Regions from separate parts of the Homo sapiens genome. Here region 1 is linked to region 2. The links come from fine-mapping of genetic effects on gene expression. Tissue or cell type: sigmoid colon. Region 2 holds a variant in brackets; the other region holds the start of a gene. All regions are shown on one strand. Distances are from middle to middle.

Region 1 (8,000 bases), 430 kb before region 2:
TGTCATCAGTCAGAGTCAAGGTCTAGATCTGAGAGCAAAGAGACAGTATGCTCTGTCCTTCCCATCCTCCATCCTCCCCCCAGGGCAATACCCCAGAGCTAATAAGCCCCTAGATACCCCTGAACCTAGGGTATAGGATGAGAAGAAATGGCCTTGTAGTGTGTCTAGACAAAAGACTCTACGGCAACCTCATAGGTTCCCATGGTTTCTACAAGGTAGAAACCAACAGCTGAATTTCTTAGGCTTCAGATTGGAAGAATAGATTACCTCCTGGATAGTTAAGAGGAGATTGGAATTAGCTCTCAATGAGAACCTGGAATGAAAAACACATGAGCAATCTACAAGAATGAAGGATAAATGACTGAGGACCAGAAAGACCAAAGTACGTATATCCTAGCAGATGACAACAGAGGACCAGATGCCACACTCCTCCAAGCCTCATCCTCTCAACACAATTCCAAGGAGAGAAAGGGTAAAGACATTTGTAAAAGAAATTGAATACTACTATGAACCATAAAGGAAGTTGTTAATTGCACTGACTCTGTAGTCTGAGGTTCATACCCAATTCATGACCTTTACATTTGGATTGATTCTCCAACATCTAATAGTTTGTTGTACAAACAGTATGTACTCTCTAGCTATTTGACACATTTATTGACTTCATTCTATGTTTGCCCAACTGTCAGTGGCCATAGCTTTCTGTACTGTCCAATACAGTAGCCACTAGCCATCTGTGGTTATTGAATATTTGAAATGTGGCTAGTATGGATTTAAATGTGCTATACATGTAAAATACACACCAACTTTTGAAGACTTAGCACAAATAACAAGAATGTAAAATATCACATTAATAGTGTTTATATTTATTCCAAGTTGAAGTGATAATATTTTGGACATATTGGGTTAATAAAAATATACCACTAAAATTACTTTCACATGATTCTTTCCACCTTTAAAAAATATGCCTACTAGGCAATTTAAAATTGTATTATGTGACTTGCATCACTTTTCTATTGGACAATGCTACCTTATATGCTCACTCATGTTGATTTCATTTGCTTTCACCTGAGGAGCCATTATCACTGCTTAATTTGTTCCATGTGCAAGCGGACACTCAATGACTTTATAATGATGATGTCTAACATTTCCTGACAAAGTGTGCTTTGTCAAATTGTACAAATTTCTTGTATCACATTTCTCAATGATAGGACTTGGGAATAATCATTGGGAATGATTGCTTTGTCTGTAATTTGTACAAAAAGGCAGAGATTTTCTTTACAAGAATTAAGACAATATTTTCTTAAAAATGCTTGGTGACTTAAATGTAAGTAAATAAATAATGAATAATTTTTTCACAAGTCAATGAGAACCAGCACAATGAGAAAAAAAATCGTCCTGAGTGGTTTACTTTGGTTAGATTTATTACCTAACTCATAAGGTTATATAATATGGAGTAACAAAAATAGGGCAATTTGAAGAAATTTTATTTATAAAGGTACAGGGTACCACACAGACAGTGCAGTAACCTAGAGATAGTAGCCTCTGAGATTTTGTGCCTAGAACTGAAGTTTGCCATTTAGAAAGTTTTTTAGTCTATTTGGGCTGCTATAGTGAAATACCGTACATTGAGTAGCTTATAAACAACAGAAATTGATTTCTCATGGTTCTGGAGGCTGGAAAGTCCACATCGAAGTATCAACAGATTCAGTGTCTGGTAAGGGACTACTTTCTGGTTCACAGATGAAATTGTTTCACTGTGTCCTCACATAGTGGAAGGAGTGAGTGTTCTCTCTCAGGCCTCTATTATTAGGGCACTAATTCCATTCACGAGTGTTCCAACCCTATGACTTCATCGCCACCCAAAAGCCCCACCTCCAAATACCATCACCTTGGGAGTTAAAATTTCAATCTATGAATTTTGGAGGAACAGAAACAATCAGACTATAGCAGAAAGATGTGATCTTCACTTATGGGTATGACCAGCTTTAGGGAACCCCCTAAGGATAGGAGCAGGAGAATGAATACTCTGACTTCACTCTCCTCTAATTCTCTAATCTCCTATTAGTGTTCTTCAGTAGCCAAACCCAATCAGAAACCAGAGGGCACTGGAGCCTGGGTGATATAGTTTATGCTGATCAGCATCCCAGAGCAAATAACAGGACAAAGGGAAGAGTGTACCTATATGAGAGCAAACAGAAAATATATGGCATATTCTGTCTTTTCAGAATCATTTACTATATTGCTAGGCAAATAGGTCACCTTTTTTCCCTCATCCCATTCTCTCTTAAATAGAAAATTAAACCTTAAAACCTGAATAGAAGACAAAAGTCCACAATCAGTGCTCTGTTTCTCACATATTGTGAGCTTTCCTAGAAGGTATTACTCCTATCGCCCAACTCAGCGTCTACATATGCTGATGGCTCAAAAATCCATAGCTATGCCCAGTTCTCTTTCCTGCCCTCTAGATGAGCAGATCCAACAGCATGCTAGTTAGCTCCCCCTGGATGCCTCACAGGCTTGTCAAACCAGTGTATTCAAGAAAGCACCCACCACTTATTGCATAATATCCTGATAGAGTTGCAATGCCAAGGAGCATGTTTTCTGTTCATTTTCTAAAATGATGACAGAAAGTTTAGAAGAGGCTGTTTTAACTGTGATTAGGAGAAGCTTATACTAATTGTTATTATAAAGATCTGAAAAATCCGTGTCATCGTCCATGGTTCATACACCAACACATAGCATGAGACTTTTGCCACTTACGATGTCCTCCACGTTAGTCTTAATTTGCTTTCACCTGAATAATTGCACTAGCTAATACTTATTGAGTACTTCCTATGTGTCAGGTATTCAATTGTCCTCTTAAATTTAAGTCTCGCAATAACCCAATAATGAAGAGGAAATTGAGGCTTGTAGGAGTCGTCATCCACAAGGACTCATAGCTGATAAGGGGTGGTGAGTTTTAGATAGCTTAACTCCAGAACACATATGCTTGTCATTCCTCTGCGATACTGAATACAAATCATTCTTATAGTCCAGGGAGGAGGGGTTAAAAGGTCACGAACTAGGAGCTCTACTGAGTCTGACACTGGAGATGCTAGGAGTAAGGAAAATATAATAAGTCTTGAGGAAGCTGGAGATGAGAGATTATAAAGTAAAAGTAGCTGAAGATACAGGATATAAGATTTTTTTTTTTAAAAATTTCTTTTTCCTTTTAAAAACGTTAGTTAAGCATGCATTGCGCTAGGCATTGGGGATAGAAAAGCAATAAAGACAATTTCAGTCTAGTGAGAAAGATAGGTAAATACATTATAATAAATTTTAAAACTTAGATTTGTATGCAAGGTTCACAGAACATTAGAGAAATTAGACATAGACAGAATTTATTAATTCATTTTATTCATTCAGAAGACATTAGTTGAATACCCACTGCATTATGCTTGAAGCTGGAGAAATAAAAAGGGCAAAGTTAAAATCCTTATCCTGAGGAAACTCACAATCTAATGAAGATGCTTCTGGGGTGCTGGTCAAGTAGCAAGGATGGAGCTACAGGAGCACAGAAGGATTACACAGCCTCGAGTGCTCAGACAATGCCAATTTAGTGTTACCTAAGCAAAAAGTTAGGGCTTTGGGTTGGCAACAGTAGAGGATGCTAAAGAGGAGTGCAGTGGACAGGTCCAAAGGGCTTGGACTTAACTATGACAACCCAAATTGTTGCTGGTGGAATGCAATACAAGGGAATATGCATTTTCCTGCAGCATCAGTTTTGTTATGATGTGGAGCATAAAATCGTGCTTTTCACTATTAAATATTTTTACTATTAAAAATAATGTAGAGCACAAAATCGTGCTTTTTACTATTTAAATGCGGATATACTGTGAAGAATGCAATAGCATATGAGATTCATAAAATACGACAGGAAACGAATTTCCACAGCTAGGCTTATGATTTAGCCAGATAGAACAGGAAACTACAAGAAAATCCCACAGCTGGGCATGCAGATGGCTTCGGCTCTCACCCCTGAAGACTCGGGGGGAGGAGTTCACAGTCTTCAGTTCTCCGAGTATTGAGGGTAAGATAGCTGAGGAACAATGAGTATTAAGTGTGCGAGAAAAGCGTTTAGGAGTTAAGCACATGGACTGAAGAGAGGCTAGGGCGCAGGCGACTGGGAACCCGTCATCGTCCCTCTGCTCTCCGGACCTCTTATTCGAAAAACATCCTCCACCACGTGCCCCTTTGTCGCCAGAGACAGCGCCTGCAGTGCGTGAGCTGCCCCCTGAACTCCTGGCGCCTGGTTGCCTGGGCAACCCTCTTCTGGGGCGCCTCCGCGACCTCTTACCATTGGTTTAGACGACGCAGCGTGCGTCTGACGTCATTGCGCGGCGCGACCAGGTTCAGGGGCGGGCCGCGCGGAGCCTCATTTCCCCAAACGCAGGCGCTCGGTGGCGGTAGCCGCGGTTGTTGGCCGACCGAGTGCCGGTCATAAGCCCCCCCCGGTGGGGGGCAGCTGGTGTGCGGATCGCGGCGGGAGAGAGGCGCGGTAGGAACGGGTCCCCGGAGCCGTGAACCGCGGGTACAGGTGTCCTGTCTGCGCTCTCTGCCAAGCCGGCTTGCTTCCTGATCTGTTGCTAGGGCCGCTGGACCCCGTTGCTAAGGACCCTTGAGATCGTGAGCGCTTGGAGTGTACCCCTCCTTTCCTGGGGTAGAGGGTCAGTCGAGAGTAGCCTTCGTTAACCTTAATTGAAACTGGTAAACTCCTCCCTCGGCCCCTTTAAAAAATCTCTGTTTTTTCTTTATTTTTTTTCTGTGTCTTCCTCTTTTGCTGACTTTGATAGCATCCTGGCTCTGGACTGGTCTTTAAGTATCTAGAAGTGAGTGTAGGAGGGGTGGCTGGGAAGGTGGAAAATAGATTCTAAGACCCCTAAGCAGATTGTGCGACCCTAATACTGGCCCTTTGAATTTACTTTCTGGTAAAAAAGGGACTGGGATAAGTGACTATTGGGCTCTGGGTCTTTTAGAATTTGACAGAGCTTTACAAATGGAACATGGTTTCTTTAGTGGGGCTCTTACTTACACGTTTGGAACTTTCTAGACCTGGATTAGAAAGCAGGGCTCTGCTGACTGAGAATTGTTTTAGTTCAGTGGTCTTAAAGCTGAGTACGGGAGAAAGTACATACAGGGAAAGAAATAGGCTATATCAGCTGCCCAAACAATGATAGAAAGTACACTTTCCTACCATTGACACAGATACCGGCAGTCCCTTGTAGATAGATGACCTGTAGCAACCAAGGAAGCTTTAAGGGGAATGTGTGGGCTTCATAGGGTGGTTTGTTTGCTTTCTGATATTGTGACATAGTTTAGGTGTTCGAAGTTAAGTGGATTTATGGATTCTAATATCTATAATTAGAATGTTTATCTTGTTTTGTAAAAGAATGAGCGGTGACCTTGATAATATTTGTAACACAAAATAGTTCTTACAGGTTCGCTTCTCCCCATCACTGCCCCTTTACACCATCCTCTACATGTTATTTAATGAAAAACCACTTGAAAGGGTTACCAAGGATAAGATTTTTAAAGCTTGCTTTCACAAACAACTCATGCTCCAGGCTTGTCAGTGGCATGCTTCCAGGTGGATATTATTTTAAAAAATTGACTACATTTCCCGTCGTCCCTTGGTGTCCGTGGAGAATTGGCTCCAGGACTCCCTCCCTCCCCCCAGTCTCTTTCAGATACCCAAATCCACCCATGCCAAAGTCCTCCAGTCTGCTCTCCGTATCCGTGGTTGGGTCAAATCTATAGATGTGGAACCCGCATATACGGAGAGCCAACTGTAATTTGTCGTTAAGGTAAAGGATAAAAATTTTAAGTGAAAAAGCAATTGTTTTGGAAGGAAATTCTCTAATACAGGATTTTGAAAGGGGATGTAGACGTGTTTGCATTACTGTATGTTTAATGCTGAAAATTATATATTGTACATAAAAGTTGTCCTGTATACTCATAAACTGTAGAAGCTCGATTTTCTACCATGTTTAAAACTTTTTCAAATGAGTTTTGGTGACTTTTTGAACTCATTCAAAATATAATGCAACACCTCCCCATTAGTTTGTTACAGGAACAACTTTTTGACGTGAAGGAAGATAGAAATTTAGCCATAAAATTCCATCCAAAACTTCCACTGAATTGGTAGGTAGTATTGAAAAATGTGCATCATAATTTGATATGGCTGCCTGTGCCCTTGTTATGTTTGTGGGTACGCGTCTTTGCTGTGCATCGCTTTTATCTGTTGCAGCTGTTAACAATTGATGATCAAGAGAAATTGGACCTCAGCTGGTCTTCAAATTGATGTAGCCCAAGATGTTAAGCCAGATTTTTTAAAAATGACAAAACATGTGGTTTCACTATTAGTAATAGTAATACTGAAGAACACTTTGTACCATTGTAAAGAAAATTATAATAATAGCTAAGACTCATGTGGCCCTTACTGCATGCCTCCCATTATGGAAATGTTGTTTTACATATATTCTTACTAGTCTTCATCAACACTTAAAGTAGTTCCTGTAATTATGCCCAATTATAGAGTTGAGGAAACTGATGCATTTTTTTTTTCAATAGAAACTTGTGTTGTTCCCCCTCCAGGAGCTTCTCAAAACAGAAGTCAGGCACAATATTAAATACTTGTTGAATGATCACAGAAGTACAATAGTAGGTTAACATATTTAAAGCTTCTCTCAGCTTATTTTAGACTATTATCTGACAACTTTAATGAGATTTTAATTACCGTAGTATTAGAAAATGGCCCTGGGAATGGAGGTGAAGTGTGATACTGGGAAGTAAGTCATCTGCTGGTAGTGGGATGAGATAAATGAGATCAATGTACTAAATCAAGGAAATTGAAATTATTCAGTGTGCAGAAGCAAGCTTACATTTAGGTTATCTTTACATGGTATCAGACTTTAAGCTGGTACATCATGTTTGAGATATCTGGCTAAATTTTATAACATGGAGCTTTGTCCTCCTTTTGAGGATTTCTAACTTGTTAAGTGGATTAAAAGCATTTCATGTGAGGAATCATTTTAAAAAGTATCAGTGTTTATCCTGAAGAAGAAAAAATGAAGGAGTTAAGAGTTAATGCCATCAAATATTTGAAAAAGTGTCATTTGGAGGTGGAAGAGGACTTTACCTGTGTTGTCCTAAGGGAAGATCTTACACTATACTTGAGAGGCAGTCATTATTAAAGGCATTAAAATGAGACGTGTGCTAATAGAATAACTAGATTGTCGTGGAAGTGAGGGAACAGAGTAATCAAGTAGAAATAAGGACACAGGATAGAAATCAATGCCATAGAAATACACATTTGAGAAACCAAGATGAGGAAAGGCTTCATGGAAGTTGGGAATGAAGCTTGGCCTAAAAATACCAGTAGGCACTTGGGTATATGAGTGTGTGTGTGTGTGTGTGTGTGTGTGTGTGTGTTTGTGTGTGTGTATTTCTTGCTAGAGATACAATTGTAGAAATTGATTGGATTAGCTGGAAACCTTGGGGTATGAACTAGAGTCCTCCATTAGCAGAAAAAAAGCAACTGTGTAAGGGAAAAGTGAACCAGTATTCCCTGGGTGAGTAACTTGAGAGATAATTTCATTTGCACCTCCAGAAAACCTTGACAGGCTTTTATTTCCCTCTTTAAACAGGTCAGGAAGTCGAGGTTTAGGGAGGTTAAATAATCTGCCTAAATTCATAAATTTCATAATTGGTAGAACTGAGATGCAGACCCATATTTGAGCCCAAAGCTCTTTCTTTCTCATCACGTGTAGCATTGAGTGTAGGAAATGAAGGAAAAGGAGACAATGGTGATTCTAAGTTTTTCAGTCTGAGGACCAGAAAACTGGTGGTACCCTGGGTTAACAAGGGGTTCATAATAACTTCAGTGTGACAACCTCAGTTTTAGTTACATTCAGTTTAAGGAGCTTGTGATACATTGGGTAGGAGAGTTCATTATGTCACTG
Region 2 (8,268 bases):
ATCATAAGTGTTCAAATAAATAAACCCCATTCAGGAAAAAGAGCATTTGTCACAGATTTTTCCCTATATGAAGCCAATATAGGAGACTATAAGGATTGAGGGTAAGGATGCTATTCCCTGAAATGGTTTGCCTCCATAAGAGATTATAAGGCACCAAAAGTGCAGATGTCTCTATTCTATTTACCAACTCCTTCTCATAAACCCGGTGCCTAGAAAAGGGCTTGCCACATAGTAGGTGATCAATGCATACCTCATTTAGAGAAAGAATACAGAGCTATTTGTACTTTCTTGGGAGCAAAAGATTCTCATTTGCAACATGTTTAAACTAGCATAGCCCATCTTTGGCTTACGTTATTATCAGTAAGGAGCACTATGATTATGTGCTATTTCTTACATATCTTATTGCATCCCCAGAAACAGATAATATTCCATTTAGATAAGTCTTGTGTTAAGAACTGAATTCTGTGTGATAAGTAAAAGATTAGTATTTGGAGCCAGGCGCTTACCATTCTAAGCTTTCTTTTCCTGATATTTAAAATGGGGCTATTAATGCTAATCACTTTATAGGCTTGACGGACAGATTAAATAAGGTTGTTGATATGGTTTGGCTGTGACACTACCCATATCTCACCTTGAATTGTAATAATTCCCAGGTGTCAAGGGCAGGGTCAGGTGGAGATAACTGAATCACGGCGGCGGTTCCCCCATACTGTTCTCGTGGTAGTGAATAAGTCTCATGAGATCTCATGGTTTTATAAATGGGAGTTCCCTTGCACAAGCTCTCTTGCCTACCATCATGTAGGATGTCACTTTGCTCCTCCTTTGCCTTCCACCACGATTGTGAGGCCTACCTAGCCACGTAGAACTGTGAGTCAATTAAACCTCTTTCCTTTATAAATTTCCCAGTCTCCGGTATGTCTTCATTAGCAGTGTGAAAACAGACAGCATCTATGTAGCACTCAGGACAAAGTAGACACTCAATACACATTGGTTAACCTCACATTTCACGGGTGAGAAAACTTTGGTTCAGAAGGATTGGATGACCTTCTCCAGGATCACCCCACTGGGAATTAGTGAAGACAGAATTTCAGAAAACAAAACTTCAGATCTCTCTGACCACAGAACCCATGCTCTTCATCCAAGCATCATTGTGTCCACGGCAAGGAGTGTAATTCAGGTGCAAACTTTGCATATTTTCATTTCAGTTTACCTGGCTTACATATAGTAGCTGTTGGCATCAAAAGTACTTGCTTTTAAAATGATGAACTGGCTGCTGTTGACTTTGGGAATGGGAGTGAATTTACGAAAGTTCTCAACCTTGGGGAATTTTTCTCACTTTATAATATAGATAGACAGAAAACTTGGGTCATTTTAAATGCAAGATATTTAGGAGTGGATTCGCTAAGTTTGCTATTTAAAATGTGTCTGATAAAAGTTGATGTTCTTGGGATAAATGTGTCATAAGTTGAGATAATGTAACCAGTGTTGAAGCAGAAATGTTAAAAAAAAAAACAGTGTGAATGTAAATGATGTTTTGTATATCACTGACTCAAAGACTTCTTACATACCATCCTCCTACCTATACTTCATGCTGTATTAGCTGAACTATAAAGTGGCAAGTGGCAATGTGATTTTCATTTTCTCCCGGCAAAACGTTTTGACCTAGGAGGGAGCCTTGAATGACCTTGGCCTTCCATTCCCTGATTTTTTACTGTTCCTTTTTTTTTTAATCCTTCTATATCCTCCCTCATATCCCTAAGCCATACTGAATGTCTTGCAGTTTTGTTAGTCTTGATGCTACATTAGAATCACCTCGCAAAATTGTAAAAGTTGCAGATACCTAGGCATCACTTGCAGAGAGTCTTAATCAGTTGCTTGAGGTATCATTTCTAAAGATTTCCTAAATGATTCTAATGCATAGCTGTGTTTGAGAATCACCGCAATTTTTCTGCCTCTGAACCATTACAGAAGTTAAAATTTCTTTCTTTCTCTTTATCCTCTGTGTAATTCCTAGCCATTCTTCAAAATGCAATTCAGAAGGCACTAGTTCCAAGAAACGTCATCATTGCATAATGTTGGTCTGCCTTTGTATTTAAAAATTTCTCTGTGCTTCATGCTAATCCACAATAGATTTCACTAAACTAAATTCCTTGAACATGAAGACAAGCCATGGAAATTGTTTGTTTGTATTCATAGTGCCTAGAATTGTCCATGTAGGAGCTATTTAAAAATATGTTAAAAATGAATGAGTGGTTGAGAAAGGAATTCTTAAAAAGAGGTTAATAACTCTGGGTACTTGTCCTGGCTGTGCTGTTTACAAATTTGCCCTATAACTCTGATGCTATGTTGACTGCAATTAGATTTAAAATACTATAGTATATAAAGTTAAACATATGCATATATTATGACTCAGCAATTTCCCACTTAGACATCCAAAGAAATGTATAGATAATCATTGAGTTATAATGGGGTTACAGTCCAATATATCCATCATAATTCAAAAACACTGTAAATTAAAAATTCACTTAATATCCCTCTAAACCCTTTTTAAACTTACAAAATCATAAGTCAAGCCATTGTAAGTCCAGATGCTCCTTGACTTATGCTGGGATTATAACCCCCAAAAGGCCATAATCTAGTTGAAAAATCCTAAATTGAACCATTTTAGGTCAGGGAACGTATTTCTGTATATATATGCTCCCCGAAGGTATGTAGTAGATTGTTCATAGTGGCACATTTTTAATAACCAAAAAGCAAAAGCAATCATCAATGTCCATCAGCAGCAAAACGGATAAAATATTTGTGGCATAGACACACATAGGATACCATGTAGCAACAAGAATCCTATAAACGCATGCAATGATGTAGATGAATAATAGATAACTTTGAACATATGGAGCCAATCGCAAAAAAGTACACTATTGTATGTTATACATTTACATATAGAACTAAAACCAAAAAAGCAATCTCTTCTTTAGAAGTCAGGGCAGTCGGGTGGATCACGAGGTCAGGAAATCGAGACCATCCTGGCTAACACGGTGAAACCCCGTCTCTACTAAAAATACAAAAAAATTAGCTGGGCATGCTGGCGGGCACCTGCAGTCCCAGCTACTCAGGAGATTGAGGCAGGAGAACGGAGTGAACCCGGGAGGCGGAGCTTGCAGTGAGCCGAGATTGCACCACTGCACTCCAGCCTGGGCGACAGAAGGAGACTCAGTCTCAAAACAAAAACAAAAACAAAAACAAAAATAAAAACCGGAAGAGGGCAATGATTGGAAGGAAGCACAAGGGTGGATTCTGGGGTGCTGGTTGTGCTTTTGATCTGGTCATTGATTACCCTGTTGTGTCCAGTTTATTAGAAATACATCAAGCAGTACACTTTGGATATGTATACTTTTCTGTATATACATTGTACTTCCATGAAAAGTTAATACTTTGGTATAAACAATATGATAGATTTGTATTTATAAAGTGACTTTGATCTAAACCTTAGAAACACTTGGTTAATATCTGAAAGAATTTACCTTCCAGGTATGGCTTCTCAAATGGGGCCATTGTATTGGATGGCAGTGTTAATCAGTGTTAATTTTTTCAGTCAGAGAGAGGTACCGTGGTAATGAGGAGGG[C/T]GTGTGATGGAGATTGTGTGTGAAAGATGGAGATTTATTGTGCTGTCCTGACAGATGTTTACTAAGTTTTAAAATATTTCAAAATAAATAATTTAAAATGTGAAAAAAAGAGAATTTTGTTGCCCTTGTTTCAGAATCTTCCATGCAAAATGTTTATCAAGCCTCGTAAAAGCACCAACAACAGGAATTTCACCAGCCATATAAGAACAGCCTGTTTCTGTTTAACTTGTTCTTCTATCACTTACTATTAAAAGTTTTGTCCCTTTGACAGAATCAGATTTGCCACTTGTATTTGTAATACACCACCCTATAAATCATTAAAGGCCTCCAATGTTCACCCAAATCCTCATACTTGTGGAATGAATATGCCGGATTAGGAGAAGCCATTTATCCTCTTGGATACTGGATCCAGATTATTCTCATCTGTAGAGCATTGGGTTGTATTTGATGACATTCTCAGTTTTTAACTTTGATCTAGATTATTATTAAAAGTGCCTCATTTCTCTCTCAGAGGTGTCTTGGTTTTGAAAATAATTATATGGTTTTCCTGCTTCCAAGGAATCTTCCAGATTTAGCTTTCTAGACATCTATGGTTTTAAAGATGTGAACTAGATTCAGCAGACCACTGAAGTGCGGGGTAGGCATCTCCCTGTGTGTTTGTCCTTGTGTAGCAGATGCAGATTTATAACATGTTAGAATAAGAAATTTTTGCGGCCAGGCACGGTGGCTCACGCCTGTAATCCTAGCACTTTGGGACGCTAAGGCAGGCAGATTACCTGAGCTCAGGAGTTCGAGACCAGCCTGGGCAACATGGTGAAATGTCGTCTCTACTAAACGACAAAAAAAAAAAAAAAAAAAAAATTAGCCAGGTGCCTGTAATCCCAGCTACTTGGGACGCTGAGGCAGGAGAATTGCTTGAACCCAGGAGGCAGAAGTTGCAGTCAGCTGAGATGGTGCCACTGCACCCCAGCCTGGGCAACAGAGTGAGGCTCCATCTCAGAAAAAAAAAAAAAATGTTTTGCAAATGTCAAAAATTCAAAAATAATCCCTTTTAGGGAAGGGAATTCATTAATTGCCTCATTGCTAATGATTATTACACATGCTAAGATTTCCCTTCTTGAGTGATGCTGAAAGTAGGACAGAAGGATCACGTCATTAAGACATTCCTGTTTTCAATGTCTCTGGGTTTGTCCTATTTACAATCAAAAGTTGCCTACTTCCTCACATACACAATGTTAATGCTTTATTTTCAAAACCTCCTGGGTTTAACATGTGTAATTATTAATTTATTCAACAAATGATGGAGAGAGAGAGTACATTATCTGCTATGTGCCAAGAACTTAAAAGGGTCAGGGCAGATTATTGAGGCAACCGGAAAATGAGGATGATTCCTTCAGTCCTTCTGCATCCCATATTTCCATGGAGTCCTGTGGGTCTTTATGGCAACTCTTGTTTTCTTAAACTCTTATTCCCTAGTCCACATCTTGTGCTACCTTTTCTTGTCTTCTATTCTGCCCAGGCTCCAAGGTTAGGCAATTCAACTATCATCTCCCTGAATTAATCAACCGTCTTCATCTTCCATCATCCTAATCTATACTGCTCACTTAGTAAATTTAGTAAATGCCACTTAGTAAATGCCATTCCTATTTGCTAAATACTGACAGTTAAGACAATTTTAAAAATATTACTACAATTTCTTCTGATTCTGCCATAATTTCTTGTTATGTGATCTCAGTGAAACTCATGAGATTTTTTCTCATTTCTTTTATTAAGTTGTATTTTGTTTTCTAATTTTTACTCTCAAGCCACCAACTTTCAAAGAAGGAAACATACACACTAGAAAGCCCAGACGTTTTGCTTCATGGAGTAGACTGAGGCCATTAGTTTCCTTTTCTAACTCAAAGTTTCTCTGTGTCATCATTCACATCTTTCGACTTCCCTTCTGCCCTGGAGGAAAGAATGTCTTTCTTCTTTCCCCAGTTGCTTGGACACTAGTTTCCTTCTGTACAATTCTTTCTTATCTAACCCCCCAAACCCATAAAATCTAACTTGAGTTCTCAAAATGAGACTAAATTTGTTCTGAGGTCTCCCCAGACCACCCACAGGTGACCTTTGAACAACATGGGTTTGAATGACCCAGGTCCAATTATTTGTGGATTTTTTCCACCTCTGCCACCCCTGAGATAGTAAGACCAACCCCTCCTCTTCCTCCTTCTTAGTCTACTCAATATGAAGATGACGAAGATGAAGACTTATATGATGATCCACTTCCATTTAAAAAATAGTAAACATATTTTCTCCTTCTTTTAATCTTTTTAATAACATTTCCTTTCTCTTGTTTACTTAGTTGTAAGAATACCACATACAATACACATAGCATACAAAATACATGTTGATTTACTATGTTATTGGTAAAGCTTCTGGCCAAAAGTATGTCATTACTAGTTACGTTTTGGAGGAATCAAACGTTATACATGAATTTTCAACTGCAAACGGGGGTCAGCATCCCTAACCTCTGTAAGTGTCAACTGTATTTCCAAAGCCAATAACTCTTCTAAGTTTGCTTTTACATCACTAAGGGGATTTGAAAATTGGCCATCCTGTTCTTGAAATTCTTTCTTCTCTTGGCTTCTTCTCATAGATTTTTCCTTCTCTGCTCTTCCCCAAGATTCCTGTTCCATTTCCTCTACTCTTGTTTTCTGAAAATATACATCCCCCAAGCTTGTGTCCTCTGCCCACTATTCTATCAATATAATCCCATTCACTGTTCTCATGAATCTTTAACTGTCTTTTACCTTAGAAAGCCATATTGTGAGTCAACACAGAGCTCCATGATGCATAGCCTTCGGCCATAAACACAGCTAGGAAATGAGGGCAGAAACTACCATGATGGAGTGGTACTTCTTGACCTAGGCACCTGGCCCATGCTGATGGCACCAGGAGACAAGGCTGCAAGGAAAGGTCAACTTTACAAATGGCATCAGTAGAACTAGAACATGACAATCTAGCTACAAAATTCTCACATACGGATTCAGGTAAACTCCGAGATCTTTTACAATGAACCATTCAAAGACTGGGATCACTTAAGACAGTCTGCAGAGGTCTCACAAAATGGACATTTTAGAAAAGATGGTCAGGTTCACCAGACTGCCTCTTATAAAGTATATCATTGCTGCTCTCTGCTGGTCAAAAGCATTATTCTCTTCAATTAAGATGAGCAGAGGTGTAGAATGGGTCAAAGAGGGAAAGCAGTGCTTTCAAAATGATATGGACTGGTGCTAGGTAAGACTTATTAAATGACTTCATAGACTGCAATATACATTCTTATGCAGAAACACTGATTTTAGTGAGGGTCTATTGGACCCCTAAAGTAAAGATGTGCAAAGCATCCCCATTTTTGTAGACCTTTTACTCATAGAAAATATGGGCTCTATCAGATATTTCTTCAACCACTAAACTAGTCACCACTTTTTAGTGTAGAACTTACTGTAAGGCATCATGTTTGTATTTTTGGCAGGAAAATTGGCAAGTCCTACTGAGGATTATTAACTTGATATACTGCAAAATCCTAAAATGTTATCTTAATCCTAAAATAAAGATTAAATCTACATATACGTACAATCTATTCTACTGAAAACTTATTTTTAAGAGTGTATGGGTAGTAGTTTTTGATTATTCAGAATATTTGCATACAAAGTGTCCTTCATGAGCAGCACAAAGGGGCAAATCTTGGGCTCGAAAGCCTAACACACAGGTTTACCCAGGCTCTGCCACTTACTGGCTTTATTTCCTTGGGTCAGCTCTTGAATATCCTTGAGCTCCACGTCCCTATTTTGAAATGCGGGAAATCATAATACCCACCTCCTATTGTTATTACAAATATTAATTGAAATATTCCCTATGAAATGCTTAACAGTGCTCCCTGCAAGTTAATTGGCAGTCAGTCATAACTGTTACTATTCATGTAAACAGCTTAAGTAGTAGTATTTATTACATCTTCCAAAACAAAAATATTTTACCACGGGTTTTAAATATACTATGTAGATATCTGGAGAAAGTTGTCTTTAGAGCTGTTCTTAGCTCTGACACTGGCTGTGTAATTTAAAGTAATGTCTTAAATTTTCTGAGCCTTGAAATGTTTCCGGATGCTTGCCGTGCCCTAAGGTCCTAACATGTCTCTATGTTTTAATTTTATTTACCACTGTTCAGTGGCCTATGGTACAAAGGGTTTTGTTTTCTGACCTACTGTTCCCCACCTAATGACTTGCCTGAAGAACAAATTACCACTGGAGGAAGCGAGTAATCTTTCTGGAGAATTAGCAAAGGATAATTTTTAGAAGGAACAATGGAAGCAGAAAAGTACACACGCACAATCTTGCCTTTCTCTTTTCGGATATTACCACACTAAAATATGATCTGACTCTTCTGTGTTTATTAGTTCAGCAAATAGGCATTGGGTTTTCACTGGGTTTGTAAACTAGAAGTTACAGTGTGCTGAATCTTGAGAAAACTGATTGCTAGAGGTAGAACAACAAGAATGTTCCAGATGTTTCCTGTCCTTTCCTCCATTCCTCCATTAGGTACCTCTCAAAGCCTAAGTTGATGATAATTCTCTTGGGATGCAGGTTTAGACATGTCTATA

What was found. PIP is the estimated chance that this variant, and not a neighbour inherited with it, causes the effect.
Region 1: PACRGL starts here. The variant in region 2 is fine-mapped to the expression of PACRGL in sigmoid colon (GTEx, PIP 0.96).

Annotation. Positions count from the first base shown.
Region 1 is chr4:20,696,042-20,704,041 of GRCh38, forward strand. It overlaps PACRGL (parkin coregulated like), which reads left to right and starts at 4,417. Exons shown (of 9, transcript NM_001258345.3): 1 at 4,417-4,746. RefSeq lists an enhancer at 4,530-4,649.
Region 2 is chr4:21,128,389-21,136,656 of GRCh38, forward strand. All of the region lies in intron 1 of KCNIP4 (potassium voltage-gated channel interacting protein 4), which reads right to left. Among named protein-coding and RNA genes, the nearest start is that of MIR7978, 330 kb to the right of the region's middle. The variant C/T (reference allele first, on the strand shown) is at 3,627.